7 linked regions of the Homo sapiens genome follow. The protein of the gene in region 6 purifies or fractionates together with the protein of the main gene of each other region. This does not show direct contact. Each region holds a gene or a part of one and is shown on either strand. Other genes may lie near its edges.

What was found.
Region 1: the proteins of PPARD (region 6) and USP34 purify together in Homo sapiens (affinity purification with mass spectrometry; one large-scale study listed by BioGRID and IntAct). This does not show direct contact.
Region 2: the proteins of PPARD (region 6) and ACACB purify together in Homo sapiens (affinity purification with mass spectrometry; one large-scale study listed by BioGRID and IntAct). This does not show direct contact.
Region 3: the proteins of PPARD (region 6) and RGL3 purify together in Homo sapiens (affinity purification with mass spectrometry; one large-scale study listed by BioGRID and IntAct). This does not show direct contact.
Region 4: the proteins of PPARD (region 6) and ARHGEF1 purify together in Homo sapiens (affinity purification with mass spectrometry; one large-scale study listed by BioGRID and IntAct). This does not show direct contact.
Region 5: the proteins of PPARD (region 6) and ARMCX2 purify together in Homo sapiens (co-immunoprecipitation; one large-scale study listed by IntAct). This does not show direct contact.
Region 7: the proteins of PPARD (region 6) and TBCD purify together in Homo sapiens (affinity purification with mass spectrometry; one large-scale study listed by BioGRID and IntAct). This does not show direct contact.

What each region holds. Positions count from the first base shown.
Region 1 is NC_000002.12:61,342,080-61,345,826, forward strand, and holds part of USP34 (ubiquitin carboxyl-terminal hydrolase 34), read right to left. Parts: intron 1,951-3,747; coding exon 1,736-1,950; intron 1-1,735. UniProt on the Homo sapiens protein: Ubiquitin hydrolase that can remove conjugated ubiquitin from AXIN1 and AXIN2, thereby acting as a regulator of Wnt signaling pathway.
Region 2 is NC_000012.12:109,234,843-109,238,589, reverse strand, and holds part of ACACB (acetyl-CoA carboxylase 2), read right to left. Parts: intron 3,278-3,747; coding exon 3,221-3,277; intron 2,985-3,220; coding exon 2,943-2,984; intron 1,426-2,942; coding exon 1,210-1,425; intron 1-1,209. UniProt on the Homo sapiens protein: Mitochondrial enzyme that catalyzes the carboxylation of acetyl-CoA to malonyl-CoA and plays a central role in fatty acid metabolism.
Region 3 is NC_000019.10:11,398,720-11,402,466, forward strand, and holds part of RGL3 (ral guanine nucleotide dissociation stimulator-like 3), read right to left. Parts: coding exon 3,736-3,747; intron 3,529-3,735; coding exon 3,496-3,528; intron 3,414-3,495; coding exon 3,292-3,413; intron 1,579-3,291; coding exon 1,483-1,578; intron 1,390-1,482; coding exon 1,321-1,389; intron 1,251-1,320; coding exon of another isoform or gene 1,233-1,250; coding exon 1,136-1,232; intron 1-1,135.
Region 4 is NC_000019.10:41,881,880-41,886,057, reverse strand, and holds the start of ARHGEF1 (rho guanine nucleotide exchange factor 1), read right to left. Parts: upstream 2,875-4,178; 5' UTR 2,769-2,874; exon of another isoform or gene 1,591-2,768; coding exon of another isoform or gene 1,565-1,590; intron 1-1,564. UniProt on the Homo sapiens protein: Seems to play a role in the regulation of RhoA GTPase by guanine nucleotide-binding alpha-12 (GNA12) and alpha-13 (GNA13) subunits. Acts as a GTPase-activating protein (GAP) for GNA12 and GNA13, and as guanine nucleotide exchange factor (GEF) for RhoA GTPase.
Region 5 is NC_000023.11:101,657,051-101,661,554, forward strand, and holds the start of ARMCX2 (armadillo repeat-containing X-linked protein 2), read right to left. Parts: upstream 2,801-4,504; 5' UTR 2,708-2,800; intron 2,485-2,707; exon of another isoform or gene 2,452-2,484; 5' UTR 2,369-2,451; exon of another isoform or gene 2,358-2,368; intron 2,099-2,357; 5' UTR 2,026-2,098; intron 1,564-2,025; exon of another isoform or gene 1,476-1,563; 5' UTR 1,411-1,475; intron 1,093-1,410; 5' UTR 1,023-1,092; intron 669-1,022; exon of another isoform or gene 666-668; 5' UTR 539-665; coding exon 1-538. UniProt on the Homo sapiens protein: May regulate the dynamics and distribution of mitochondria in neural cells.
Region 6 is NC_000006.12:35,411,811-35,415,557, reverse strand, and holds part of PPARD (peroxisome proliferator-activated receptor delta), read right to left. Parts: intron 1-3,747. UniProt on the Homo sapiens protein: Ligand-activated transcription factor key mediator of energy metabolism in adipose tissues. Receptor that binds peroxisome proliferators such as hypolipidemic drugs and fatty acids.
Region 7 is NC_000017.11:82,936,835-82,940,581, reverse strand, and holds part of TBCD (tubulin-specific chaperone D), read right to left. Parts: intron 3,312-3,747; coding exon 3,222-3,311; intron 2,534-3,221; coding exon 2,446-2,533; intron 1,216-2,445; coding exon 1,106-1,215; intron 1-1,105.

The sequences.
Region 1 (3,747 bases), on a different chromosome or scaffold from region 6:
CAATAATGGACTAACACACAGTTCTCCAAAGTGATTATATTTTATGTTCAACAGCAAGTTATGACAGTTCCAGCTCCACATTCTAATGTCAATCCTTGATAGTATCAGTCCTTAATTTTACTCATTTCAATAGGTATGTAGTAGTGCCTCACTGTGGTTTTAACTTATATTTACTAGATGACAAGAGACACTGAGAGTGTACTTACTGGCCGTTTCCTTTTTTTTTTTTTTTTTTTTTTAAGACGGAGTCTCACTCTGTCATCCAGGCTGGAGTGCAGTGGCGTGATCTCGGCTCACTGCAACCTCCACAGCCTGGGTTCAAGCGATTCTCCTGCTTCAGCCTCCCAAGTAGCTGGGACTACAGGTGAGCACCACCATACGCAGCTAATTTATTTTTTTTTTTTGTATTTTTAGTAGGGATGGGGTTTCACCACGTTGGCTAGACTAGTCTCGAACTCCTGACCTCAAGTGATCTGCCCACCTCAGCCTTCCAAAGTGCTGGGATTATAGGTGTGAGCCACCATGCCCAGCCCTTATTGACCATTTCTATGTATCATCTTTTATGTAGTATCTGATCAACACTTTTGCCCATTTTTAAACTGACTGTCTTACTCTGTTGGAGGAGGTCTTCTAGTACTAAAAACATTGTAAAACAAGGTAGATTTGGAAAGCATTAACATATACTATCATTTTATTCTGTCTACAATGGGTTGTGAAAAGAAAACCATTTTGTTCAATTTCTAACTCCACGCAGTAAAAAATAGGTAAAATATTGATTAAAGGAAAATTTGAGAAAAGAATGGTAACAATTTACAAATATGGCATCACATTCAGTCAGATGACCTCAATCTAACCTATTCCTTTCTCAACAACCACAACAGCACAACAATAAAATAAGTCAAAGTAACTTAACCTAGACAGATCATGTACAAAAAACACATACAAATCAGTAAATTGTTGCCAAGGTCCACAAGTTGTGTTTCTAAGTGTGTTTATGGCCTCTTTGCATAAACGTAATCCATCCGGTTTACTTATAATGTACTGGCTATCCAAAACCCATTTACTAGGCCAGCATATGTTGATGATACCAACCAAACAAGAGGTTTAAGGCCTTTAAACTGCCAATTCTAAAACTGTTTTTCACTTTCTTATTTTTTCTTGCTTTACTCATTAATTCCCTACTACTCTTTACCTTCCTCCATCCTCCATTCTTTCAAGTCTGGTCATGTCCTATTACTTTAAGAGTGATTTAGACTTGAACAATCATTTCTCACACTCGCCCCTCCTTATTCCCTCCTACCCTTCCCTAACCCCAAGCAACCACTAACCTTCTGCCTGCAGATTTGCCTATTCTAGACATATCATATAAATGGAATCATACAATTTTATCTTTTGTGATTTCCTATACTTTTAGGTCCTAGGATTTCTGAGTATAAATTCTAATACAACCATATATTTTCTAAAATATAGAGCTTTAATTATTACATATTATTGCTATATATTTTCTTTCCCCGCTGAATATCTCAATAGAACTGCAGGACTTATTTATATTCATGATGGACTATTTATAATAATTTAATTCCCTTGGGGGAAAAAAAAAAACTACCATATGTAAGTTATTTTGACAAAAACATTTAAGTACCATAACCTTAACTATTGAGTCCTTTCAACAAAGTAAGATAAATTATTCCTGTTGTGAAGAAGGTAATATATTTTACTTACTGTAGAGTCTTACCTTGACTAAGATGTTCATGGTAAATGGAAGCTAAATTGGGAAGATGTTGTTGGAGGTGAGATGTCAGTTCCGCATGTGAATTAATCTGAACTAGCTCCTCTTCACATCCAGATTCTTCACCATCAAAATCAGCCATATTTTTTTCTGATTTTGCACTAACCTGGGAGCTACTACAACTGACATCATCTGCACTTAGCATATCATCAACCATATGCCTACAAAACAGAGAAAAGCACAAAGTTAGTAATTACGAATGTGAATCTAATTTGTGAACCACAAAAAATACCTCTCTTAAACTTACAAATACACTTAGAAACAAACCGACATCTGCTTATTAACAATATGGAATGTTGAGAGCTTTACGAAACTGAAAACTTCACACTGTCAGAATTATTAAATAATTTTACAATATACAGTCATATTACCAGGCCTATTAAGACACCTCATTAAAACAAATTCAAAGAACAATTTTAGGCAAGATCACTAATACTCACTGTTTACATATTATTTTATACTCAAAGTCTATAAAATGTGAAACCATAAAAAGTGTGGTTTTTTACAACTGTAGAATCAAACCAAAAAAACATTTCAATTTAAGGCTGCAGTCTTGATGGACTTAATATTAACTGGGGAACTTCTAACCAAACAAACCCAAATTAAGTATTCATTTCTAAAACACATTGTTACCGGACATAAAGACAAAATGATTTAAAAAATCGAAAAATAACATGAAGTTCAGGGTTGATTTAGAGACTCACAAGTAGTACCATTAATACACAGAATATGAAAAGAGCTAAAATGAAAAATTAAATCATTAGGTCTTGTGAGGTATGGAATGGGTATAGGTGTCAAAACTAAGATTTGCAGTGTACCAAACTGAATATATTGCACCTCAGTTTTTTAACTGCTTTGTCTTCATCATGAGCTGTGCTGGGGACAACTGTGAATGTTTGTATCTATAATGCAAGATAGTGAGCCAGTGGTTCCCAATCAGGGGTGAATTTAGGCCCCTGGGGGAAATCTGGAAATATCTAGAGATATTTTTGGTTGTCAAAACTGAGGAGATGCTAGTGGAATCTAGAGATAAGGCTCAGTATAGTGGCAAACATTCTGCAATGCACAGGGCAACATTAGCATTGCTATACATTCAAATAAAAAAAAAATGTTCTGGCCCAAGGCTGGGCATGGTGGCTCACACCTGTAATCCCAGCACTTTGGGAGGCCGAGGCAGGCGGATCATTTGAGGTCAGCAGCTCAAGACCAGCCTGGCCAACATGGTGAAACCCCGTCTCTACTAAAAATACAAAAATTAGCTGGGGCATGGTGGTGCATACCCATAATCACAGCTACTCGGGAGGCTGAGGCAGGAGAACCACTTGAACCCAAAAGGTGGAGGCTGCAGTGAGCCAGGATCGTGCCACTGCACTCCAGCCTGAACAACAGAGTGTGACTGTGTTTAAAAAAAAAAAAAAAATTGTAATTATCTGGCCCAAAATGCCAATCTTGAAAAACACTTCCTTAATCTCAGATGCATCAGTGCTAAGAATTAAAAAGCAAAGGAAATAAAGAAGTAATATGTATAGATATGTAGAGTTCACCCTAACAACTTAATTGCATTCTGGAAGATCTGGCAAATTGTCGAGTATAGCAAAACTCAATCTGATAAAGGGCATACCCATGATTCACCATAAACTCACATAGTATCACTCGTAACGACAATGATAAATATACAGCTAACACTTATCGAGCACTTATTGTGCACCAATCACATTAGTTAGCCCAGGAAATCCTCACAATAAAACCATGAGATAGATACTATTGTGCCCATTTTATTTTTAGAGACAGAGTCTCATTCTATTGCCCAGGCTGAAGTGTAGTGGTGCAATCACCACTCACTGCAGTCTTGATCTCCTGGACTCAAGCGATCCTTCCACCTCAGCCTCCCAATTATCTAGAACTACAGGTGTGTGATACCATGCCTGGCTAGTGTTTTTAATATTTTTGTAGAGACA
Region 2 (3,747 bases), on a different chromosome or scaffold from region 6:
TCCATCTCCAAAAAAATATATATATATAATAATTATATATACATTTATATAAATATATATTTATATAAATACATATAATATGTATTATATTATGTATATATAATGTTATATAACATATTATATATTATATTATGTATATTATATGTTATATTATATAATATATTATATATATTATTATATATAATTATATATATAATAATATATATATGTTTCCATCAATAGGGGATTAGTAAAAAAAAAAAAAAAATTATACACGGTACATCCATGCAAGGAAATAATATGTGGTGGACCACTCTTTATTAACAATGAAAGAGGTCCACAAGTGACTGACCAATTAAAGAATAATATATTCAAATGATCTGTCCACTCTCAGCTCTTATCTGCAACTTATGCCTACAACTCTAGGTTTCAGGGACGGAATTGTGTCTAGAAACAGTCAACAACTAAGCTGGCCCCTCAGTGACAGGATTCTCGGTCCTTGCGCTAGGTTCTTAAAAATCGTTTTCAGTCTTATTTAAAATTTTCACAATATAATCATGGATTACTTCTGTTTCTTTTTTTCTTTTTTTTTTTTTTTTGTGATAGGGTCTCACTCTATCCCCCAGGCTGAAGTACAAGGGCTCCATCTCAGCTCACTGCAACCTCCGCCTCTCAGGTTCAAGCGATTCTCATGCCTCGGCCTCCTGAGTAGCTGGAATTACAGGTGTACGCCACCACGCCCAGGTAATTTTTGTATTTTTAGTAGACACAGGGTTTCACCATGTTGGCCAGGCTGGTTTTGAACCCCTGACCTCAAGTGATCCGCCCACCTCAGCCTCCCAAAGTACTGGGATTACAGGCATGGGTCACTGCACCCGGCCATGGATTACTTTTCTAAATGCAAGAAACAATGGAAAACGATCACTCAGTCAGCAAATATTAAGAAATTCCCTGAACAAACCAGTATTTTTCTATCCTGGAAATTTTCTTCTCATGCGCAGAGACCCACATAATACAAGAAACAGATCCAAGTGCCACCAGCCTGGACGTGATCACAGGCCACTTTGCTGTCCGCCTCCTGCCCTGGACTGGAGCATAGCAAGGGCAGGACCCTGGGTGTTGGTGTACTCTCCATCCCCAGCATGCAGCCCAGGACCCAGCACAGAGCAGGAATGTAAGGAAGGGAGGGCCAGGTTCTGAGAGAGGAAGAAATGCTCTGCGACATCTTACCTTTGTGATCAGGTCAGAGTGCCTGATGATGGCGCGGATGAAGAACCTATGGTCCGTCACTTCCACACCTTCCTTCACCTTGGCAGCACCCAGGTAAAGGTGCATCTTGTGGTTGGCACAGGGCACGGCGGTCAGATCGAAGTTACGCATCCGGTTAAGTTCCAGCTGGAAGGCCAGGGCAGGTTCCAAGTGACGGTAAATGCGATCTTCTGCAAACTGTAGGCGGACCAGAGAGAGAAGACAGACACATACACACACAGCGTGACGTTGGAGCTGCGTCCCTGCTTGGTCCACACCCTACTCTGCAGACCCCTGGTGTCCATGGGTTTGGCACTCAGGAATGCAGCATTCATGATGTTCCCTAATTGTAAGCTACCCCCAGGGCTCCAGATATTTGGGGTTTTGCTAAGATCTGAGGAGAGCTATGGGCATTGCAAGCCTGTTGTGCTGGGTGCAGCGCTGGCTCCTGGGGGAACCTAGCTAGTCCCTATCACCTGCCAGCGTGACCAGGCTGTTCTCCATCTGTCACAGCCTGTGGCAATTCTCATGAAGCCACTAACCCCTGGTTTCTTGGTGGAAATTGGTCCCCGAAAAGAAAGCAACTGACAGTACTGGAAACTAAACTGAAAAAAAAAATGAAGACATTAAGAAAAGGATGTGTCTTAGCTAGAAAAATAAAGCTTTGGATAAATTAAAATGCAAAATGCTGAATTTGGTGGGGTCTTGAATCAGTGCTGGGAATAAACCTACCTGTTCTACAACAGGGATCGGTAAACGTTTTCTTAAATGGCCAGAGAGTAAATGTTTTAGGCTGATGGATCATACGGGCTCTGTCACAACTACTCAATTCTGCTACTGTTAGAGTGAAAGCCAGAGTAGACAATGTGGAATCCAACGGGTGTGGCTGTGTTCCAATAAAACTTTATTCGTAAAAACAGGCAGCTGGTCTGCAAGTGAGTTTGCCAACCACTGTTCTAGACGAGCATAAGAAAAACAGTTTGGAAAAAATGTCTTACTGAGTACATCAGCAAGTACTGAAAATTATTCAAGCAAGACAGAAACCTGTAGTGAGGCTGAAAGGGCAAGATTCTCAGGTCTGAGTGCCATGCAGGGAACAGAGGGCTCTCAATGGAAATACAATCCCAGAGGAAGACTGCAGTCTACACAAAAGTTGCTACATTCTTGAATATGGGGATGCCTTAAGGACTGCAGACTATATTCTTCATGAATATCAAAGATGCCAGGGAGCTGGGAGGCACGGTGGCATGTGCCTATAGTCCCAGCTATTCGGGAGGCTGAAGCAAGAGAATCGCTTGAGCCATAAGTTCGAGTCCAGCCTGGGCAACATAGTGAGACCCCATCTCTTTTTTTTCCTTTTTTTTGAGACAGAGTCTCACTCTGTCACCCAGGCTAGAGTGCAGTGGAATCACCTTGGCTCACTGAAACCTCTATTTCCCAGGTTCAAGCAATCCTCCCACCTCAGCCTCCCAAGTAGCTGGGACCACAGGCTTGCATCACAATGCCAGGCTGATTTTTTAATTTTTTTGTAGAGACAGGGTCTCACTATATAACCCAGGCTGGTCTAGAACTCCTGAGCTCAAGCAAACCTCCTGCCTCAGCCTCCCAAAGTGCTAGGATTACGGGCTTGAGCCACCACACCCGGCCCCATCCCATCTCTTAAAAAATAAAACAAGATGCTAGAGAAGAGAAAACATCATTACTTTTGGCCATACCTCATCTCTTGCTCTGAATGTGAAAAACTTGGGAAATTCTTTCTGCAAAAAGAAATCCACACACAAGACAATTAAATCAAGCAAGACGCACTGAAATATGTACATCCTTATTTAGTGATTGTAAACGATTACATTCACTTCTAGAATGAATCATTTGGAAATCCTTCTCCTTTCTAATGATCTCTTTCACCCAAATCTACAAAATAAATATCAAATAAATGGCACACACCAAGGCTTGGAGAATGGGAAAGACTCATAGAGATGAACTGTGAACTAACCTCTTGGGCAATCAAGAATGTGATTCGTCGGAGTCCATAATCCACAAGGATATTTTTCTGCATTAAAAACCAAAGACACAATGGAATATTATTTGGCCGTAAAAGGAACTGAAGTATTGCTGCATGTTACCACACGGATGAACCTGTAAACATTATGCTAAGTGGAAGATGTCAATCATAAGAGACCTCCTGTGATCTGATTCCATTTATATGAAACGTCCAGAATAGGCAAATCTATATAGAGAGAAAGTAGATTAGTGGTTGCCTAGGGCTGTGGTGGGGAGAGGGTTTTTGGGTTGGGGACAGAGGGGAGTGACTGCTAACAGGTACAGGGTTTTTCTATGGAGTGATGAGAATGTCCTAAAATTGATTCTGGTGATGGTTGTACAACCTGGTGAATATACTAAAAATATATTAAATTGTACACTTTTTTTCTTATTTCTTCTAAAAAAAAAAACAGGATACATGTGCAGAACGTGCAGGCTTGTTACACAGGTATATATGTGCCATGGTGGTTTGCTGCACCT
Region 3 (3,747 bases), on a different chromosome or scaffold from region 6:
GAGTGCAGTGGCACCATCTCAGCTCACTGCAACCTCCGTCTCCTGGGTTCAAGTGATTCTCCTGCCTCAGCCTCCCAAGTAGCTGGGACTACAGGTGTGCGCGACCATACCCAGCTAATTTTTCTATTTTCAGTAGAGACAGGGTTTCACCACGTTGGCCAGGATGGTCTCGATCTCTTGACCTCGTGATCCGCCCACCTCGGCCTCCCAGAGTGCTGGGATTACAGGCGTGAGCCACCGTGCCCAGTCTCTTTTTCTTCATAAACAGGATCTCGCTCTATCATGCAGGCTAGAGTGCCGTGGCATGATCGTAGCTCACTGCAGCCTCAAACTCAAGCGATCCTTCCACCTCAGCCTGCTGAGTAGCTGGGACTACACCCAGCTAATTTTTTTGACTTTTAATAGAAATAGGGTCTCACTATGTTGCCCAGGCTGGTCTTGAACTCCCGGCCTCAAGCAATCCTCCCACTTTGGCTTCCCAAAGTGCCGGGATCACAGGCAATAGCCACCGTGTCTGCCATGGTATGCAGATTCTTAGGGACATACATGTCCTCAAAAAAGTGTAGGCTGGGTGCGGTGGCTCACACCTGTAATCCCAGCACTTTGGGAGGCCGAGGTGAGTGCATTGTTTGAGCTCAGGAGTTCGAAACCCACCTGGGCAACATGGCGAAACCTCATCTCTACTAAATAAAAAAAATAGCAGGGCATGGTGGTGCACACCTGTGGTCCTAGCTACTTGGGAGGCTGAGGTGGAAGGATTGCTTGAGCCTGGGGGAGGGGTGGAAGTTGCGGTGAGCTGAGATTGCACCGCTGCACTTCAGCCTGGGTGACAGAGCAAGAAGACCCTGTTTCAAATAAAAAGGGGTGTGATGTGATTGCACCCTAGATGACCCATGGGCAAGCAGTTACACAGGTCCAAATCTGAGCACGAGTCGGATTTATGAGTGATCACCCAAACAGGGCCGTGCAGATGCATGCAATCCCCTGGATGGATACCCCGGGCGCTCAGTGTGCCTCCTGTATACACTCCTGGCCCCACAATCCTGTGTGTACACATGTGCATGCACACACACGTGCACACACACAGAGCCTGGGTGCCCGCAGGCCCGCATGCACACACAAGCCGTCTTGGTACCTTGGTGCTGGGGCCCTGGGGCCCTGGAGAGGCCGGGGGACTGCCAGCAGGAGCATCTCTGCTTCTAGGACTTGAGGGGGGTGACCCTGGGGACACACTGGGGGAGATGCAGAGGCTGAGGTGGGGTGGCTGTGCTGACTCCTGATCCCATGATCCCCAGTCCCATCACCAAGCAGAATGCTCACCTGGAGGTGGGGGATGAGGGGTCCCCGGGACTCCCACTAGGTGATGAGCTTTTCTCTCGGGCAAGCTTCCTAAGGATGGGGACAGGGGATGAGGCTAAGGCAGGAGCAGCCCTTGCTGATATCTGCCCACATCACCGCCCCTACACACACCCCGAGACTCACGCACTGAGACGCTTGGTGAGGCTGATCCGCCGTCGGATGCGTGGGGAGCTGGGGCAGGAGGCAGCTGGTGGCTCAATGACCCGGGAGAGCCGGTAGCTGAGGGGTCAATATGTGGATGAGGTGGTGGGGGCAGGAAATACAGGGGATGGAGAGATAAGAGTTGGAATCAGTTGGGAGGTGGGTTTGGGGTGTAAGGGGGAGCAGCCAGAGGTGGCACCCCACATGCCAGGGTCAGGGTGGTAAATGAGGGTCATTGAGCATCAAGGTCTTATCAGAGATGGGACAGGATGGCTGGTCAGGAGGTCACAAAGAGATTCACAGGGTGGCACTAAGGAATCAAATTGGGTCAGGATTAAAGTCAGGGTCAGGACTGGGTGCAGTGGCTCACGCCTGTAATCCTAGCACTTTGGGAGGCTGAGGCGAGAGGATTGCTTCGGGTCAAGAGTTCGAAACCAGCCTGGCCAATATAGTGAAACCCCGTCTCTACTAAAAATACAAAAAAAATTAGCCAGGTGTGGTAGCTCGCGCCTGTAATTGCGGCTACCGGGGAGGCTGAGGCAGTAGAATTGCTTGAACCTGGGAGGCGGGGGCTACAGTGAGCCGAGATCACTCCACTGCACTCCAGCCTGGGAAACAGAGCCAGACTCTGTCTCAAAAATAAATAAATAAATAAATAAATAAATAAATAAATAAATAAATAAAATAAAGTCAGGGTCAGACTGGGGTCAGGTCACCATTGGGGTCAATGGTTAGGGTCACAGTTATATAGAAAGAAAGGACACAGTTGTCATAGTCAAGCTGGACAGTCAAACATAAAAGTTGGAGTCAGTTACTCAGAACTGAGGGTCAAGGGTTGGGGTCAGAGAGTCAGATGAGGGGTCATGAATAAGGTCATGGGTCAGATAGGACCAAAGATGGGGAAGTCAACAGATGGGACAGTTGAGTTGAATGGCCAGCTGAATGCTAAAGTTGAGGTCAGAAAATCAGATGGGGTTGAAATTGAGGTCAGAGGTCAATTGTGACTATTTTTTTTTTTTTTTTTTTGAGACAGGGTCTCACTCTGTCACCTAGACTGGAACTGCAGTGGCGTGATTTTGGCTCACTCCAACCTCTGCCTCCCAGGCTCCAGCAATCCTCCCACCTCAGCCTCCCAAGTAGTTGGGACCAACGGCACTCAACACCACATTCAGCTAATTTTTTTTTTTTTTTTTTGAGACGGAGTCTCGCTCTGTTGCCCAGGCTGGAGTGCAGTGGCACCATCTCGGCTCCCTGCAAGCTCTGCCTCCCGGGTTCACGCCATTCTCCTGCCTCAGCCTCCCAAGTAGCTGGGACTACAGGCGCCTGCCACTACACCTGGCTAATTTTTTTTTTGTATTTTTAGTAGAGACGGGGTTTCACTCTGTTAGCCAGGCTGGTCTCAAACTCCTTACCTCATGTGATTCACCCGCCTCGGCCTCCCAAAGTGCTGGGATTACAGGTGTGAGCCACCGTGCCCAGCCACGTTCAGCTAATTTTTGTATTTTTTTGTAGATATGGGGTTTCGCCATGTTGCCCAGGCTGGTCTCGAAATCCTGGGCTCAAGTGATCCACCCACCTTGGCCTCCCAAGTGCTGGGATTACACGAGTAAACCACCAGGCCCAGTCTATTTGATTCGACTGGAGATACTGCAAGGTCACAGGTTGTAGTGGGGGATCAGGGCTCAAGAGGGGGTCTTGGGAGGAGCTGGAGGTGTGTATGGAGTGGGTGGAATCCAGTTGGTGACCCAGGCTCAGCTGGGGTGGGGCTGGGACAGGCTACAGGGTGGTCACCTCTGCTCCTCGGTGAGCTGGTTCTGGGCATGCAGGGCAGCCAGGATGGGCGGGTGGGGGCTCAGGGTGTAGCTCTGACAGCGCCTCTGCAGCTGCTGGATGCGGGCCAGGATCTCCCACTCCTGGAGGACGAGCCTCTAAGACCCTACCCCTGCCCCACCCCCACCCTCAGGCACCACCACACCCACTGTAGCCTCCACTCACCTTCCTCCTCTTCTCAAAGTTAATGAGATCCCCCTGGGGGCAAAGTGTGTCTGAATTGCAGCACCCAGGGTCAAGGGTCAAGGGTCAAGGTCAGGGGCTGGGATGTCAGGAGCCCCACTGTAGTAAGGGAGTGTGGGGTGGTGTCAGGAGTACAGGTAGGATCAAGGGTGGATATTGGGAGGCCCATTGTGCTGGGGGCAAGTGGAGCTGGGGTCAGGGGTCAAGGGTCAGGGGTCAGACCTCCAACATATC
Region 4 (4,178 bases), on a different chromosome or scaffold from region 6:
AATAAACTGCATTTGGTGGACACAGTGGCTCACACCTGTAATCCCAGCACTTTGGGAGACCAAGGCAGGTGGATCACTTGAGCTCAGGAGTTCGAGACCAGCCTGGCTAACATGGTGAAACCCCCATCTCTACAAAAGATAGCCAGGTGTGGTGGTTCATGCCTGTAGTCATAGCTACTTGGGAGGCTAAGATGAGAGGATCGCCTGAGCCCAGGAGGCAGAGGTTGCAGTGAGCCAAAATTGTGCCACTGCCCTCCAGCCTGGGCGACAGAGTGAGACCTTGTCTTAAAATAAAATAGGCTAGGCACGGTGGCTCTCGCCTGTAATCCCAGCACTTTGGGAGACCAAGGCGGGCGGATCACGAAGTCAAGAGATCGACACCATCCTGGCCAACATAGTGAAACCCTGTCTCTACTAAAAATACCAAAATTAGCTGGGCGTGGTGGCACGAGCCTGTAGTCCCAGCTACTCGGGAGGCTGAGGCAGGAGAATCGCTTGAATCCGGGAGGCGGAGGTTGCAGTGAGCTGAGATCGCGCCACTGCACTCCAGCCTGGTAACAGAAGTGAGACTTCGTCTCAAAAATAAATAAATAAATAAATAAAACAAAATAAAACAGAGAGCATTGCTTCAGAGCATGGGGAGCCCCCACCCTACCCTTCAGAAACTAAAATCTGAACCAAAGCTCTGAGACACATCATGTCTTCTTATGGATGCCTGGAAAAGTCACGGGTATGTGGTCACTATGGCCTAGGCAGGAGTGCAAGTTGGATACGGCTGCTCCACAGAGGCTTGGGGGTTGGAGATGATGGAGGCGAGGAGTGTCGCCTGTTTAGGAGGAGGGGTTTGGGGGAGTCCCACAAAGGCTGGAGAATTATAGGTGAAGCTGTCAGAGAATAGATGGATCTATAGGCAACTGACAAGGCCTGGGGGGTCCAGCAGAGGGAACACTGCGTGCATGGGGCGCTGGGGGGTTAGGGCTGGTTTAGAAGGTCCATGGGTTGGGGGGCCACATGGGTGTTGAGTTCTATGGAGGTCTCAGGGTCTATAATGTGTTGAGCAGGTGACTCAGGGTCTCCAAGAACTTCTGGAGCCTTAAAGAACCTAAAAGAGTCGTTGGAATGTGTAACTCCCCAGATTCTATTTGACACACAGTGGGTCTAAAGGATCCAGGGATCATACAGGATCATGATTCTATAGGGACAGCTGCCAGTCTGTGGAACCTCTGGAGACTTAAAAGGGACTCAGAATTCCATAGGGGTGCGTGGTGGGTCCCGAGACCCATGGTCTATAGAGCCCCGGATTCTAGGGGATGCCACTGGTCTATGAGGACCCCACGTCTATAAGAAGCCAGTTCTCCATGGGGGGCTGGCAGGAACCTGGAGGGTCTGTAAGACTTTATACGGAATGAGGCGGGTCTACACGAGACCCAAATCTTACATGGACGTGGCGGGTCTTACGCGGGCCCTAAATCCTACGGGGGACGTGGCAGTGTGCACGGCCAGGGATGCCGGGGAGGACGTGCAGAGTCAGGGTCTGACACCCGCTGGGGACCGCGTCCCTCACCTGCTCCAGGTGGAAAGAGAAGCCATCGCCGCCACCGGAACCGAAGCCTCCGCGCTCGGGCTCCGCACTCTCCCCACCCCTGCCGCCGCGTCGCTCTAGCCGCCCTGAGTCCACCTTTGCGCCCAGCTCCACTCCTCCTGCCAGCCGCTCTAGCCCGGCTCCTGCCGGGCTCCGGCCCCGACGACTCTACTCCTCCCGCCGGCCGCTCTAGCGCTGTACTGCGCCACGCAGGCCAGATAGGGCCGCTCTGGCCTGTCTTGGAGGGCCAGCGTTTCCGTATCTCGACTGCCCCCGTCACTCCCCGGGCCCCGCCCCGCGCCCGGAGGTGCAGATGGGTCCAACTCCTCCCGAGTTCGATCGGAGATCTCCTAGTCACCCCAGCGCTGAGCACTCGGACGGCGGACTGGGGCTCCCCGTCCTATTAGTCTCCCCACTTAGGGGACCCGCTGAATTTCCAATCCTCGTACATCAATCCCCTCCGTCTCCCACCCCCAGCCCCTTCCTTTGGAACCGGAAAAGCAATAGTCTTGAGTTCCAGCACAACTTTCCCTCTGACATGCAGTGTAATCTGCAAAAAGTAATGACTTCTCTGTAGACCTCAGTCTTCCCATCCGTACAATGGGAGAAGGCCTCCAGCTCTCTCCCTACACCTGTCTCTCACGGTATAATTAATGACCTAGAAAAGAGCTTTCCGAAAACTCTTTCAAATGCACTCTGCAACTTTCAGCTTCACAGCGACCCTCGTCGTTGTTGTTATTGTTGTTTTTCATTTTTAGGTGGCCCTAAAGCATGCGGGGGTTGGAGGATGGCGCTTTGCGGAAAGCACGTGCGAGTTCAAATCCCAACTCCACACTTTCTCACGATGTGCGTTCCCTGGGACGAGTCGGTTTGGCTCCCCGGGCCTCGGTTTCCCCACCCGTACAATGGTAGTGATCGTCCGTTCTCCACTGAGCAGGTGGGAGGCCTTGGCCCCGGCCTCGCACCGTTCGTCCCCACCTATGGGGCACTCGTCAAGTGTGAGTTCTCCCCTCTTTGCTCCCTTTGACAGATGGGAAAACTGAGGCCCAAGGAGGGGCGGCCGCTGGTTCCGTGGGGTCCGAAGGGGGCCCCTCCGCTGCCGGCAGCGCCCCAGCCCCTCCCTCCTCCTCCCCACTTCCCCCAACAGCCGAGGGGAGGAGGCCGGGCGGGGCCGGGGACCGAGTACCTGGTGTCCGCGCGGAGGTGACCGGCGGGGCGCCCGAGGTCGGGCTCGGCGATCCCGGGCCCTGGGTCCCGGCTCCCGCTTCCTGGCTCTGGCGGGGCAGGAAGTCGGGGCGTTTTTCCGGAGGCCCCCGCCCCGCCGCCCCTCCCCGCTTCCTGCCCGCGCCCCGCGCCCGCCCGGCACCTCCGCTTCCTTCCCCTTCTCGCCGCTTGCCCGCCCCTCCTTTCCCCGCTGCGCCCGGGTCCCTGCGGGCACCGGCCCCCGCCCCGGCCGCGCCCGAGCTCTCCCCGGCTTTGTCCATCGGTCCGTCCGCCGGGCGCGGGCTCCGCGGGACTCGCATCTCCCGGCTGGGGTCACCTCCCCGGAGGTGCTGGGGGGCAAGCCCTGCTCCCCGTGCGCCCTAGACCGAGCCACGACCTCCCCGGCTTTCCGCGTCTGTGGTTCTCATGGTCTTGCGCCCTTCCTTCGCCTCTGTGGGTGTGCTCCCGCCTGCGTCTGCATCCCCTTCTCTGTCCCTCTGTCTTTCTCTACTGGGGTCTTTCCCTCCTTGGCCTCCACCTCTCCTCTCTGTCCCTCCATCACTTTCTCCCCGAAAGCCCTTCTCTACCCTCTCCAGCTCTCTCTGTATCTTTCTGCATCTCCGTCTCAGTCTCTGTCATTTCCCCAGCTGTTGCTGTGCCTGGGCCTCTTCGTGCCCATTTTCGGTTGCCCCTTCTCCCTTCTGTCTCTTCCTTTCCTTCTCGCTCTCTCTCTGTCCCTTTCTCTCCACGTCCCTGTCTCTCTCCCGGATTCCCAGGGTCTCATCATCTCTTCCTTCCCTTGCTCGTCCCCTTCATGATCCCTGGGTCTCAGCCTCTCTCCTCTCCCTTTCTCAGGAAATCCGTGTCTCTGTGCCTCTCTGTCATTGCCCCGGGATCTCCCTGCTATCCCCAGGTTAGGACCACAGACCCTCCAAAATGCCCCTTCTGTAAGTCAACGCATCGGGAAAAGGCTGCAGTCTGAATTCTGTACTAGCCCCAATCCACAAGATAGTCCCTGTGTTTCCAAGGCTTAAATACGCATAAAGTGGCTCATGCCTGTAATCCCAGCACTTTGGGAGGCCGAAGCATGGTGGATCACTTGAGGTCAGGAGTTCGAGACCAGCCCGGCCAACATGGCGAAACCCTGTCTCTACTAAAACAAAAATTAGCTGGGTGTGGTAGCACATGCCTGTCATCCCAGCTACTCGGGAGCCTGAGGTACAAGAATCGCTTGAGGTGGAGGTTGAAGTGGGCTGAGATTGCGCCACTGCACTCCAGCCTGGGCGACAGAGTCAGACTCTGCCTCAAAAAAAAAAAAAAAAAAAAAAAAAGCGGCCGGGCGTGGTGGCAGGCGCCTGTAATCCCAGCACTTTGGGAGGCCAAGGTAGGTGGA
Region 5 (4,504 bases), on a different chromosome or scaffold from region 6:
CAGGAGGCACCGCTGCCCTGGAAGTCTCCGCTTCTCTGGGAGCTTCTGCCACTTTGGGAGCCCCTGCCATTGCAGGGGCTTCTGCAGCCCCAAGGGCCTCTGTCACCCCGGGAGGTGGTGCTATTGCAGAAGCCATTGCAGCCCCAACTACTGATTCGGCCTTAGGCCCAACCCCGGCTCCATCTGCCTCTTGGGCCTGACTGCCTGCCCCACTCTGAGCCTCAGCGCTGGATGCAGCTGGGGCCACTGCCTCAGCTCCAACTGTGTCCAGAGCAGAGGCTTCATCCTGGGCCCTGTCCTCTGCTTCAGCACGGACTGGGGTTGGGGGACTGAATCCTGACCCAAGGTCGATTGTGAATCCGGCTCTTAGCCCAGCTCTAGCCCTGGCTCCAGTCCCAGCCACAGCCCGGTTTTTGGGCTTGGCCATTCTCTTCTTGGTCTGGTCTCTCCCCCTGGTGTATTTGTAGACACAGTACCAGGCACCAGCCCCTATCACTATCCCCGCCGCTACACAGCCAGCATCCCGAACGCGGCTCATGGTGCAGCTGGGGTTATTCACTGATCCAGGGCGTGGAACTGGATTGCTTAAGGTTAAGGGATGCCTGCTCGTCCGGGTGAGGCTCTTCAGTTTAGGCTTACAAGTTCTGCTGAGGCTTAGGCAGGGCCTAGGGGTAAAGGATAAAAATGAGGCTTAGGGCTCTGGCTCACTTCGTGTCTAACCAGTTCTACTTAGAGAAGAGTTTAGGGACACAATGCTTCGTTGGCGGGCTAGCACCCAGACACAGGTGTCAAGGCCTGTGTTTGCTGATTCACAGACCTAGTTTAACGTTTTCTACATCTTCAACCTTAGCCTGCTCTGCCAATGCCTACAACTTCCAGCATCTAAATGGAAGGACGAGAGGCAGTACAGACATGGGTAAAGCTGGTAGAGAGCTGGAAAAACAGTAGAGATCTCAGATTCTGCTATGATGCCCCACCCCCTACCCCCAAGGCCCCTACATGGTGCTCATGCACATACCAACCTGGGATCAAGAGCAGTTTGCTTTTTTCCACTGTAGCTGCAGTTGCACAGAGCCCAAAAGGAAGACAGACCTGAGGACAGATCAGAAAGGGCGTTTTTGAGCCATTGGTGGACGAATTCTGGTTCTTTTCCTGATTTGGGCCCCTGTGGGTCAAAGGTTTTCCCCCCTCAGGGATCCTCTTTTCCTCTTCAGCCTCTCCTCCCCCAAATATTAACTAAGGCAGATGCCACGCCCCTTTCTCTGCACCAAAAAGAAAGGGCCTGGGGCAAGGGTGTCTTTGAAATTAAAAGAGAGAAGATGCAGGAGGAGCCTCTGGTCCCATACTCTACTCTTGTCTCTGCCACACCCACACCAGGGGGCCCCAGACAATTCCAACCCCAGCACTGACCCTCCAAAGATTCAAGGCTGTTTCTCCTTACTTCAGTTCAGTTAGAGCTTCATCCTAAGGACAGACTGAAGAGCAGAAATATAGACTGTCGACGTTAGACAATGAAAGCCTGGTGGATGGATCAGCATCCAGGACAAGGGTCTCAGTAACTGCCTTTTCGTGTTTGCACATCAGAATGTCAAATGATTCTACCTCTCAATTCCTTCAACTCTTCTCACCCCACCCCTCCCACCTCAATCCTCCTCCTGCGCAGGCTCCCCAGGCACTCAATCCCTCCTTCCGCTTTGCCCCGCCCCCGTCCGCCATTTCTCCAGGACACACCGCCACACCCCTTCTCCTGCAACGAAGCGGGAGGGGAGCGGGGCGAGGGTGCAGCAAAAGCTGGATGGGACGCGGTATGGGGGACTCCTGCCAAACAATTCAGTGTTCCCCTCCCAGGATCACCCATCTTTCGCTCCCCAGCCCCTAGGCCTAGCGTTAGCCTGCAGAAGAGGGGCCTCAACGTCTGCCTTTTCGGGTTCAGGGTCGAGATTTTCCACGATTTCTCTGCTATGGGCTCTACCTCCCACTTCCCACAAATCCCCCCAACAACCGCCATTTCTCCCGCCTGCATACCCGAATTCCTTTTCCAGGACTGAAAAGACGGGGGGTGAACGGCTGTGTGGGCCGGAGGTGTCTGGAAAGCAGTCTGCGAGTTAACAAGGCGGTTTAATACCAGATTCTCTCAGGGTCCGCCCCCTCCCCCCCACCTCCCGTGAAGCCCAGACAGCGCCAAACCCGCCACCTCTCCAACAGCAGCTGGTACACCCATTTCCCAGCACTCCCAAATCACAGAGGGTCGGCTGGGGGATGGGAGGGTGCCGGGGCGGTGGTGGGGAAAGTCAGGGTGGGAGTGTGCCGCCCAGATTGTTACCAAATTGCATGCCCCACCCCCGCCTCCTGGTTACCCTTTCCCAACCTCCCTGCTGGCCTTCTATGCGCTGCCACGTTTATTTCTCTTCCCTCCTCCTCTCAAAACAGGACGGAATGTGGGGTGCGGGCCTGAATATTATAAACAAAACCAAAAAACACTGGCTGGAAAGGAAGTAAGCGGATTCTTCGTAAAGTCTATCAAAAGTCTTTTCGTTTCCCCCTCCCCCTTTCCCCACCGCCCACCAAAATGAGCCGCGTTTGAGCACCTCAGGTCTGGAAAGCCGGCCAGGAGTGGGGGAGACCGAGGCACCCGCGGCCTCCGACTCCCGCATCCCTAGATTACCCCTATTCAGGGGTCCCAGACTGTGCCCACCCTCACACCCACCTGCCCGAATCTGGGGGAATTTTCTCCTCCTCCTCCTCGCCTGGGTTAAACGCACGGCAGCGAGCTGCGCAATAGAGTTGGTACCCAGAGGAGGACGGAGAACGACGGTCAGGGCTTTAAGTACCTTTGCCCACGTCAGCTCCTGGTCACGTGAGGGCTGCATCGCCAGTAAGCTTGGGTCCCCAATTTCCACTCCCACCAAGAGTACGAGCCCCCTCCTTTACTTCCATTCCCATCTCACCCCACCACATCAGGTCCTGTCACTCATTTTTTTGTCTTTGTAGTCCTGGAGGCCTAAAGTAGCCCCTTCTCCCTGCTTTCACAATTTGCCTTTCTCTGGTTACCTGGGAGGGGCTGCATCTTCTCGGAGGGCTACTGAAAATTTTTACTTTTTTGTTGGGGAATTGTTTCATCCTTTCCTGGGCTACTGGACACTCTTCCATCTCTCCACCTCTAGTTCCTCAGCCCCTAGTCCCCAGGATTTTCCTTGCAGTTGACTCCCTGTTCCAGTATAGTTAAGGGGCAGAGTGTCAGAAAGGAGACAAGGAGTGGGAGTGGGGTCTGTACTTCTCAAATACTTCTGTTTTGTTTTCAAAACTATCATCATGCTTTATTTTTATAGTAAGAAAATTCAGTAAAACAAGAATTCAATGTGGGAAGTAGCAACAAAAAAAGGGTGGGCATGTTTTGTAAAGAAAAAAGGTTTCCTGCGTCCATTGGAAAGCACCATTAATTTTGGTTAATTTTTACCGAATAGAACATGAATTCTTTTGGTCACATAGGAAATAGTTTTTAAAATATGCTAAGGTATTTGAACATCTAAAATGGAATATTTCTCAATAAGATAAGCATATTTCCATGTGATCTGTAAATTGATCCACAGAGAGATGTTCAGTTCTTCAATCTTGTTTATTTTGGACAAATAATACGCTACTTTTTTCTCCTTCTGGGACAGCTTTTAAGTTGCATAAATAAATGATCCTGTCTTGTCCTGTTAGAGAAACACATTTATTTAATATTCCCAAACCATTGCTGACTGCTGTGTGTGAACCTCCTGTAATTTGATGGCTGTAACCATGACAGTTTTAAACACCTGTCTTCGGATTAGGTTCCAGTTAATGATTCAACTCTGGGCAAAAGGAAGAGCTGTGAGGCCAAGGAAACTGAGTGTGGTGGGTGCAGAGTGGTCAAATCCTCCCTGCCCTGTCAGGAGGAGGAGGGAGATGCTGTCTCTCTACTCCCTCCCATATGCCAGAGCCGCTCATCTCCTGCATTCAGGTACCTGGCTCAGTTGCTCACACCCAAAATATATCCAGACAAGTGACCAAGATGCAGACCTGGTTAAATGTCTTTGGCTCTTTCCGTCCCTCCCCCAAGTTCCCAGAGGAAACCCATTGATGCATAGAAAGGATTGCTGTTCTTACCTGACCCTGCAGCTGACGATTTGTGAAACCTGTGATTTCACAAAAAGGTTTTTGTGATCACACAAAAAGTGATTGTTGGGGGAAGTTCCCAGGCCTGACTGCTGTCTGTCCTTATTCGTGGTTACCAGTGAACCTTGCTCCAAACACTGTCTGCTACTACCACTTGGCCTAAGAGATGCATCCTCCTGGGCCTCTCACTTCTGCCTCCTTAGCTCCAGGGGACCTAGGAAGAGTCTAGCCTTCCTGCAAGGTTACTGCCTGCCAGTACACATCCACCTTGGTGCCCTCTCAACCAAATGTATGCCCAGGGAACAATCCCCACTGATGAACCCAGAGTAGGTGTTCTCACCCGGTCAACTCTGTAGACCACCTG
Region 6 (3,747 bases):
GTAAACACTAGCCCTCTCACCCAGAGAGTAAAGTATCAGTTTCACCATCTTTGATGACAAGTTCAGCAAATAGACACTATTGACCTTATTCACATCATTTGTGGCTGAGAGCTCTCCTGCATATCTAGCCTCCAATGCTGGGAGAATGCCGTTGTCATGGCTGTGAAGACAGCCAGGAGGCGCCCGATTGGTCTATTTACTTTGCTGGCAGAGCTCACAGGCAAACAAGCACCCAGCAGCTTCTGAAGTCAGGCCAAATTCTGCAGGGATTTGAGGCTGGGTTACTGAGCAGCCTCTTTACTTCTGCTGTCCTGTTTGCCTGAACTGTGGGCTCCTTGGGACAGGCACTCAGCCTTGTCCACCACTGTATGGCCAGCCCTGGGCACAGTGCTGGGCCCAGCCTGATGCCCACCAAGTGCTTGCCAAGTGAGGAGGTGCTGAGGCCAGGAGGAAGGACACTTTATCTTCCTCTTTCTCAAGGGTGATTGGGATGGATGTCACTGAAGCAGGAGGGATGAGAATGGGAATGGGAGGTGAATCCTGGCTCTAGCTGTCTCTACTCCTACACGCCCAGGGGACCCTGGCAAGTGGGTTTCTGGTAACCTCAGTTTCCTTGTTGATGGGAAGGTCTGTCCTGCCTGGCTGGGGGGAGGGTGAGAAGGTGCATGGCAGGTGTTGAGCTCAATATCTGCACTGAGAGTCAGTGCTGAACTGCTGAGGAGGGTGGTCAGGGGTGACTGTGGAGCCTTCCTGCTGTTTCAGGGCTCAAAGCTGTGCGCTGTCCTTATGGGTCCCTCAGGGGACTCCCGAGGCCAAAGTAATAACTCATGGGGATGGGGCAGAGAACTAGCAGGTGCTGAGACCTGCGATGTGTCACATACCCCCACTGACTCTCACCTGGCTGGCCCTCAGGCTGGGTAGGACACAGCCTATAAAGGTGAAGAGAATGAGACTTGGAGAAGTGATGGCACTGGCGAGGGCTACAGCTCACAGTGACAGACCTGGGATGCCTGCCCTGGTCTCTGTGATCTCCAAGCCCTTCTGCTCTGGACACATGATCAGGCTCTGTCTCCAGGGCCCCTCACCTGCCAGATCCTCACCCCCCTTTTAAACAGTTAATTTTACCCTTAAAAAAAGTACAGTTGCCTTTCAAATTATGGAAGTAGTGCAGACTTGTTGAGAAAAACACAGAAGGGTATGCAGGATCTTATGACACAGCCTCCTTAACCATGATCCTGCTCCTCAGAGTTAGCCCCTGAGTCCTTCGGTATAGACTCTTCCGGTGCCTTCTATGAAACATAAGGATTTTAAACAATGGGATCCCCAACTTGTCAGGAACTTATTTAATATATATATAAACCAGCCTTATCCTTTTCAATGACTCCAGAGTATTCCACCATATGGCTCTACCACAGTTTACATAACCAGTTCCCCACAGATGGGCACGTTCCTATTTTTGCTCTTATGAGCAGTCCTGCAGTAAATAAGCTGGCATGGGAATCTCTGAGCATGCTGAGCAAGTACTTACACAGGACACGTTCCTAGAAGTGGGAATGCAGGGTAAAAGAAATGCACACTTGGCCAGGTGTGGTGGCTCACACCTGAAATCCCAACACTTTGGGAGGCCGAGGCGGGAGGATCACCTGAGGAGTTCGTGACTAGCCTGGCCAACACAGTGGAACCCCATCTCTACTAAAAATACAAAAATTAGCCAGGCACGGTGGTGCACGCCTGTAATTCCAGCTACTTGGGAGGCTGAGGCAGGAGAATCGCTTGAGCCCGGGAGGCAGAGGTTTCAGTGAGTTGAGATCGTGTGCCACTGCACTCCAGCCTGAGCGACAGAGCCAGGCTCTGTCTCAAAAAAAAAAAAAAAGAATCACACATTAAGAAGTGTTGGCCCACACTACCCTTTCACCCCTGGTGGTGGGAGGACCAAGTCCTCCCCACCCATCTGACAGGTGAAATGGCATTGCAACTTAAGGTGCTTTCTTTGAGTTGGTTAGACTGAAAAACCTGTCGGGATTTCAGGCCATTCGTATTTGTCTTACTGTTACCTGTTCTGATTTTCCTGCTAGGTTGCTTGTCTTGTAGAATTTTTGGGAACTTTTCATACACTACAGCTTTAACACAAAGTGATTATGTCAAGTAACCCTCTCTCCTGTTTCAATGACTGAACAAGGAAGTCTATCTCCACTTCATCCACTTATTGATAAACAGAATCTATTAAACACCACCGCCTACATAGTACCATGTGACTGGTGAGGCAACCTCTGCCCTGGACGTTTCCCGCTGTGCCCTAAATCCCACAACGAAGCTGCCTGAGAGGTCACCGCCATGCCTGCCTCACCCTACCCCTGCTCCCAGGCACCTCACCTGGCCTGCACGGGAACAGTGATGCTATTTGGGAAACAGCCCTGGTCCCAAGAAGGGGTGTGGAGGAAACTCCAGGACAGAACACTGCTCTGCAGGGGACTTCCATCTGCCTGGGCTCAGATGTGGGGATGAGGTGGGCCACGGCAGGCGGCATAGCCACAAACCCTGTGGCCGTCTCTTCTCCTTGCATTCTCCCCTGAATCCTCATGACATCCCACACTCATTCTTAGTCCCCACTGTCTTCCCTTTGCTTTCTAACCCTCCCTACCTTCTTCAGATTTAGAACAGTATGTGCTACTGGCACTGAGTGAATTATCACTCCTGGTTAGCTGTTCCTCTCTTCTGAGACAGGCTGTGTCTCCAAAGCCATCCCAGTTACCAGCCAATAGACAGGAAGTTGCTTACTCGGGGAATGGCGGACACCTTCACTTTGGCCCTAGAATCACATTTGGCCTACTTTGGTCACTCCCAGGTGATCCTGGGTGAGATGAGAAGGACTGAATGATGGCTCTATACTCCCTCCACCCAACTCTATACACTGAAGAGGAAGAACTTCTGCAAAATTCTGGGACTTGCTTTGCAGGTTCAAGGTGGTGTGGCTCCAGGATTCAGACCCATCTTAGCTGCAGACCCAAACAGGAGCCTGCGCTACCTCCACAGCCTTCACCCTGCCTTAGCTTGGACACTAACTGCCTCCTCCTGCTCCATGCAGTCACAGGGGTCCAGAGCCCATTTCTGCGGGGTGGGCTTGCTCCTCTGCCTGAGTCACCGCCTGTGGCTAGGATCTCCTGCAGCTGAAAGCAGCAGCGAGTGCAGGGTGTCTACTCCCAGCAGTATATCCTTATGACCCTGAGTTCCCTCTAAGGGGAGGAGCGAGGATGAGCTGCATGTGCAGGCCTGCAGCACTTGGGTAAGGAGAGAAGTGGTGGGAGAAAGCAAGAAGCAGAGGGATCAGGCCAGGCGCGGTGGCTCCTGCTTGTAATCCCAGCACTTTGGGAGGCTGAGGTGGGTGGATTGCTTGAGCCCAGCGGTTCGAGACCAGCCTGGCCAACATGGTGAAACCCCATCTTTACTAAAAAAATACAAAAATTAGCCGGGCGTGGTGGTGCACGCCTATAATCCCAGCTACTCGGGAGGCTGAGGCAGGAGAATCACTTGAACCCAGGAGGCAGAGGTTGCAGTGAGCTGAGACTGTGCCACTGCACTCTAGTCTGGGCAACAGAAGGAGACTTTGTCTCAAAAACCACAAAAACAAAAAAGCAGGGGGAACTGCAGCAGGGAAAGCCAGGGGCTGCATGGATTCTGGGTGCTTTTGAAGGTAAACATAACATGATGATGATGAAGATGACAGAACAGTACAGGGTACTAGAGAAA
Region 7 (3,747 bases), on a different chromosome or scaffold from region 6:
CACCTCTGTCCTCCGAGGCCACAGCGGCTGCCTGGTGCGTGAGCTCTATGGGAACCCAGCCCTGTTGGAAGGTCACTGTTCCGAGGAGACACCTAGGGAACGTCACCTACGTCCTTGCTGGATTCAACAAGGGGCGTGGACCCCACAGACCTGTAGCAACGCACCGGGATCAGCACGGAGGCCCTCACAGTCGGCACTCAAAACAGAGCAGCATCCACAGGCAGGACACCTGGGACTCCACCACCCCGGGTATGCCATGTGGACACCCACACAGCCTCTGGTTGCTTCAGTCCTGATCTCCAACACGGGGTGACGAGACTGCTCCCCTTTTAGAAGTGTGTGTGTGTGTGTGTGTGTGTGCGCGCGTGCAAGTGAGCATGTGTGTGAGCCAGCATGGGTGCCCATGCCCATATGTGTAAGACACCATCACTGCTGTTCCCAGGAACATACCGGTTGGCCCAGGACACCTGAGCCTGCACTTTCCCCACTCTGCTCTCATTCAGACCCTCCCACCCCCAACTCAATACACACATCTTTCAAAACCGCCATTCTACTCCACCCATGGTAAAGAAGCCAGCCCATGTTGCAGAAACTGTGCCTGCCAAAGTAAACGTGGAGAGTGGCACTATGGCCTCCTGAGGGCCTCATGGCCCTGAGGAAGGGGGTGGACATCAGAGCAGAGGCGTGGGGAGAGCTTTTCTTATTTCCGCCTGTGCCTCTTGATTTCCAACAGGTGCTCACACGGCCTATTCCAAGAGAACTTTAGAGAGGTCTGGGGCAGCAGCACCTGCCAGGCCTTCAGTGCCCTCTGCTCCACAGGCCACCAGACACAGCCTTGTGGTACAGGTGCCCGCTCCCCTGGTGGGATGGATGGCTTTGCTGTGTTCCTGACACCTGACACTGTTTGGGGACAGGGCGGTTGAGAAGAGGTTTCGGCTACAGCAGCACGGCTGCCTTGTAAAACCTAAGCAGAGGATGTGGAGACCTGGGAACCCTCTTTCCTCCTCCTATCAGAGGGTTTTGGGAGAGACGAGTAGACACGGTGGGGACAGGAAGAGGGGCGGTGCCAGGCCCAGGTGGCCGTGCAGGAAGGGCCTTCACTCACCACGCAGTGTCACTGAGCACAGTCACCACCTCGTCCAGCACATCCGCGCCCACGACGTCACTGTAGGTGAGCAATGTCTCGTACACCTGGCTGGCCGTGGTCTTCCGGATCTGGGACAGGGATGCAGTGCATTTGCCGGAGGGAAGCGCCACCGCCCCACCCCGGAGAGACGACAGGACCCAGGCCAGGGAGCCCCGTCAGTGGAAGGCGTCAGGAGGAGGACGCTGACCCTGCATCCCATCCCAGCCACAGCAGGGCTGCAACCAAGAGGAGGTGCCTTCCAGGCCCATTAACCACCTCCTCCCTCCACAGACACACAGCTAGCTGCAGGATCCCAGCAGTGAAGATGACATCATTCTTGTTTAAATGCTTTATTAACCAACCTGCTCCCTCACCAGAGAAGCAATCTCGCCTGCTCTCTATTAACTAACCTGCTCCCTCACCAGAGAAGCAATCTCGCCTGCTATTAACCAACCTGCTCCCTCACCAGAGAAGCAATCTCGCCTGCTCTCTTTTCATCAGAGAAGCACTCTCACCTGCTCTCTATTAACCAACCTGCTACCTCACCAGAGAAGCAATCTCGCCCGCTATCTATTAACCAACCTGCTCCCTCACCAGAGAAGCAATCTCACCTGCTCTCTTTTCACCAGGGAAGCAATCTCGCCTGCTCTCTTTTCATCAGGGAAGCAATCTCGCCTGCTCTCTTTTCATCAGGGAAGCAATCTCGCCTGCTCTCTTTTTGAGTGGTGCCCTGGTCATCATGTCTCACTGCGCTGGTGGTCTGAGCCCCGGGCCCACCCTGGAGGTGCTGAGTCGGCAGCACAGGGCCCAAGAGCTGCACTGCTGAAGCCCCAGAGGTGCCAAGCCTGAGGGTCCGGCACCCCACTTCGAGAACCACCATACAACATGAAGTTACTTTTGCCTTTTAGGAAAATGTCACCTTTGTATCATCTGAGGTTTTTTTTGCAGCCAGGAGAAAAGAAATCCTAGAAATCTAATAGCCGGGGAGTGCTGGGGATGAAGGGCACTGCCCCTAGGTGTGGCTGAACCACTTCAGCCTGGGTCCTTCTGGAAGCTCCTGAGCCAGATCCCACCGCCAGGTCACCCCTCAATGTATGTCCATAGAAACGCCAGCCGGACAGCCCGTCCTTAAAGCCAGAACAGTGGCGTCCAGAGCCCCTTGGCAGCCGCGTGCCTGTGACGCGTCGTCACCCAGGCGCGTTAACGAGAGGGGCTCGGCTGGAAAGCACACCAACACAACAGTGCCAGCGAAGGCCTTCTTGTCACTGAGGGGCTTGTGTCCACACGGCAAACACACGTGAGCAGGGGCAGGCACTCACCAGCGGGAAACGGTGGCAGAGGAGCAGACACAGCTGCAGGAGGGCCTGCCTCCTCACGTCGCCGGGGAACTGCACCATCTCGCAGAACCTGCCGGGAGCAGCACATGGCTCCAGGTGAGCCCCACCCCGCGCAGGCCAACCCCAGCAAACCCCGGACCCAAAGGCCCATGCAGAGACCTGGGCAGAGCAGATCCGTGAGCACAGTGCGGGCCTGGGGCCCCAAGCCGGAGGTGTGTGTGTGCGTACATCTGCACTGTGCCTACACACACGAGTGTCGCACTTGGAAAGTCACTGTGGGAAGTGAGGACGCCTCACAGAGGATCTCCTGCAGGGCCGCTCGCCCTGCCATGAGGACCCCCACCTCAAGGAGCCACAGAGCAGCCAAGGTGCCTATCGCTGGCTGGCGCACCTGCCCAGTGTCCACCTGAGCGCCGCAGAGCAAGGCACTCAACAGCGACCCCCAGGGCACACAGGAGAATCGGGGAGGCAGCCCCTGACCACGCAGCTCCTTTCCGGAGCCTCCCCTCCCGCCAGGGCAGAGCGCGAGGGCAGCAGAGGCAGAGCTCGCCTGTTCCCGCGGGAACTCCCTCCACCAGCACCTGGGCTGCCTCACCTCCCATTGCGACTGCTTTGAACATTGGAATGCACGATCTTAGGTTAGCTTGAGGAGTAACACTAACTGCTCCTCTCCCGCCTGGAGCCGTGGACTCCTGCCCTCAGCCAAGGGAGGCTGCGCCCTGCCATTCCGTCTAAGGCCAGCAGCACTTGAAACTCACACTGCGATGCCTGACAGGAGCTTCTGGATATCTTTTGAATTCTTGATTTCTTTCTTACAGAGCGCAAGCAACTTCACAGCAAAGGGGTGGCTGGAAGAACAACACACACTTTAGAGATGAGCTTTCACAGGCAGCCCCGGGATGCACACTTTTTCTGTCTCAAAGAAGGTCAACTCCGTCCTCCCAGTGGCTCAGTCCAAGAAGCCTGCAGCCCTGAGGCCCCTCTGCCAGCAAGTCCGCTGGTCCCCATCCCAATACCTCCACAGGCCGGCCTGGTCCCTAGCGGCTGTGCCACCACCTGGCCGGCCTCTGCTGTCTCTTGCTCTCTTGCCTGTGGTGCAGCAGCCCCCACGGGGCCCCACCTCCCTTTCCAGGCCCCAGGGTCTGTCCCCAACACAGCGGCGGCCAGGATGCCCGTGCTCCTCCACCACTCCCTCCAGAGGCTACCTGGCCTGGGCTGCTGCAGAGCCGGGGGAAACTGCCGACACACAGAGGACACACAAGGCTGTGCAGTGTTGTTTTGAGC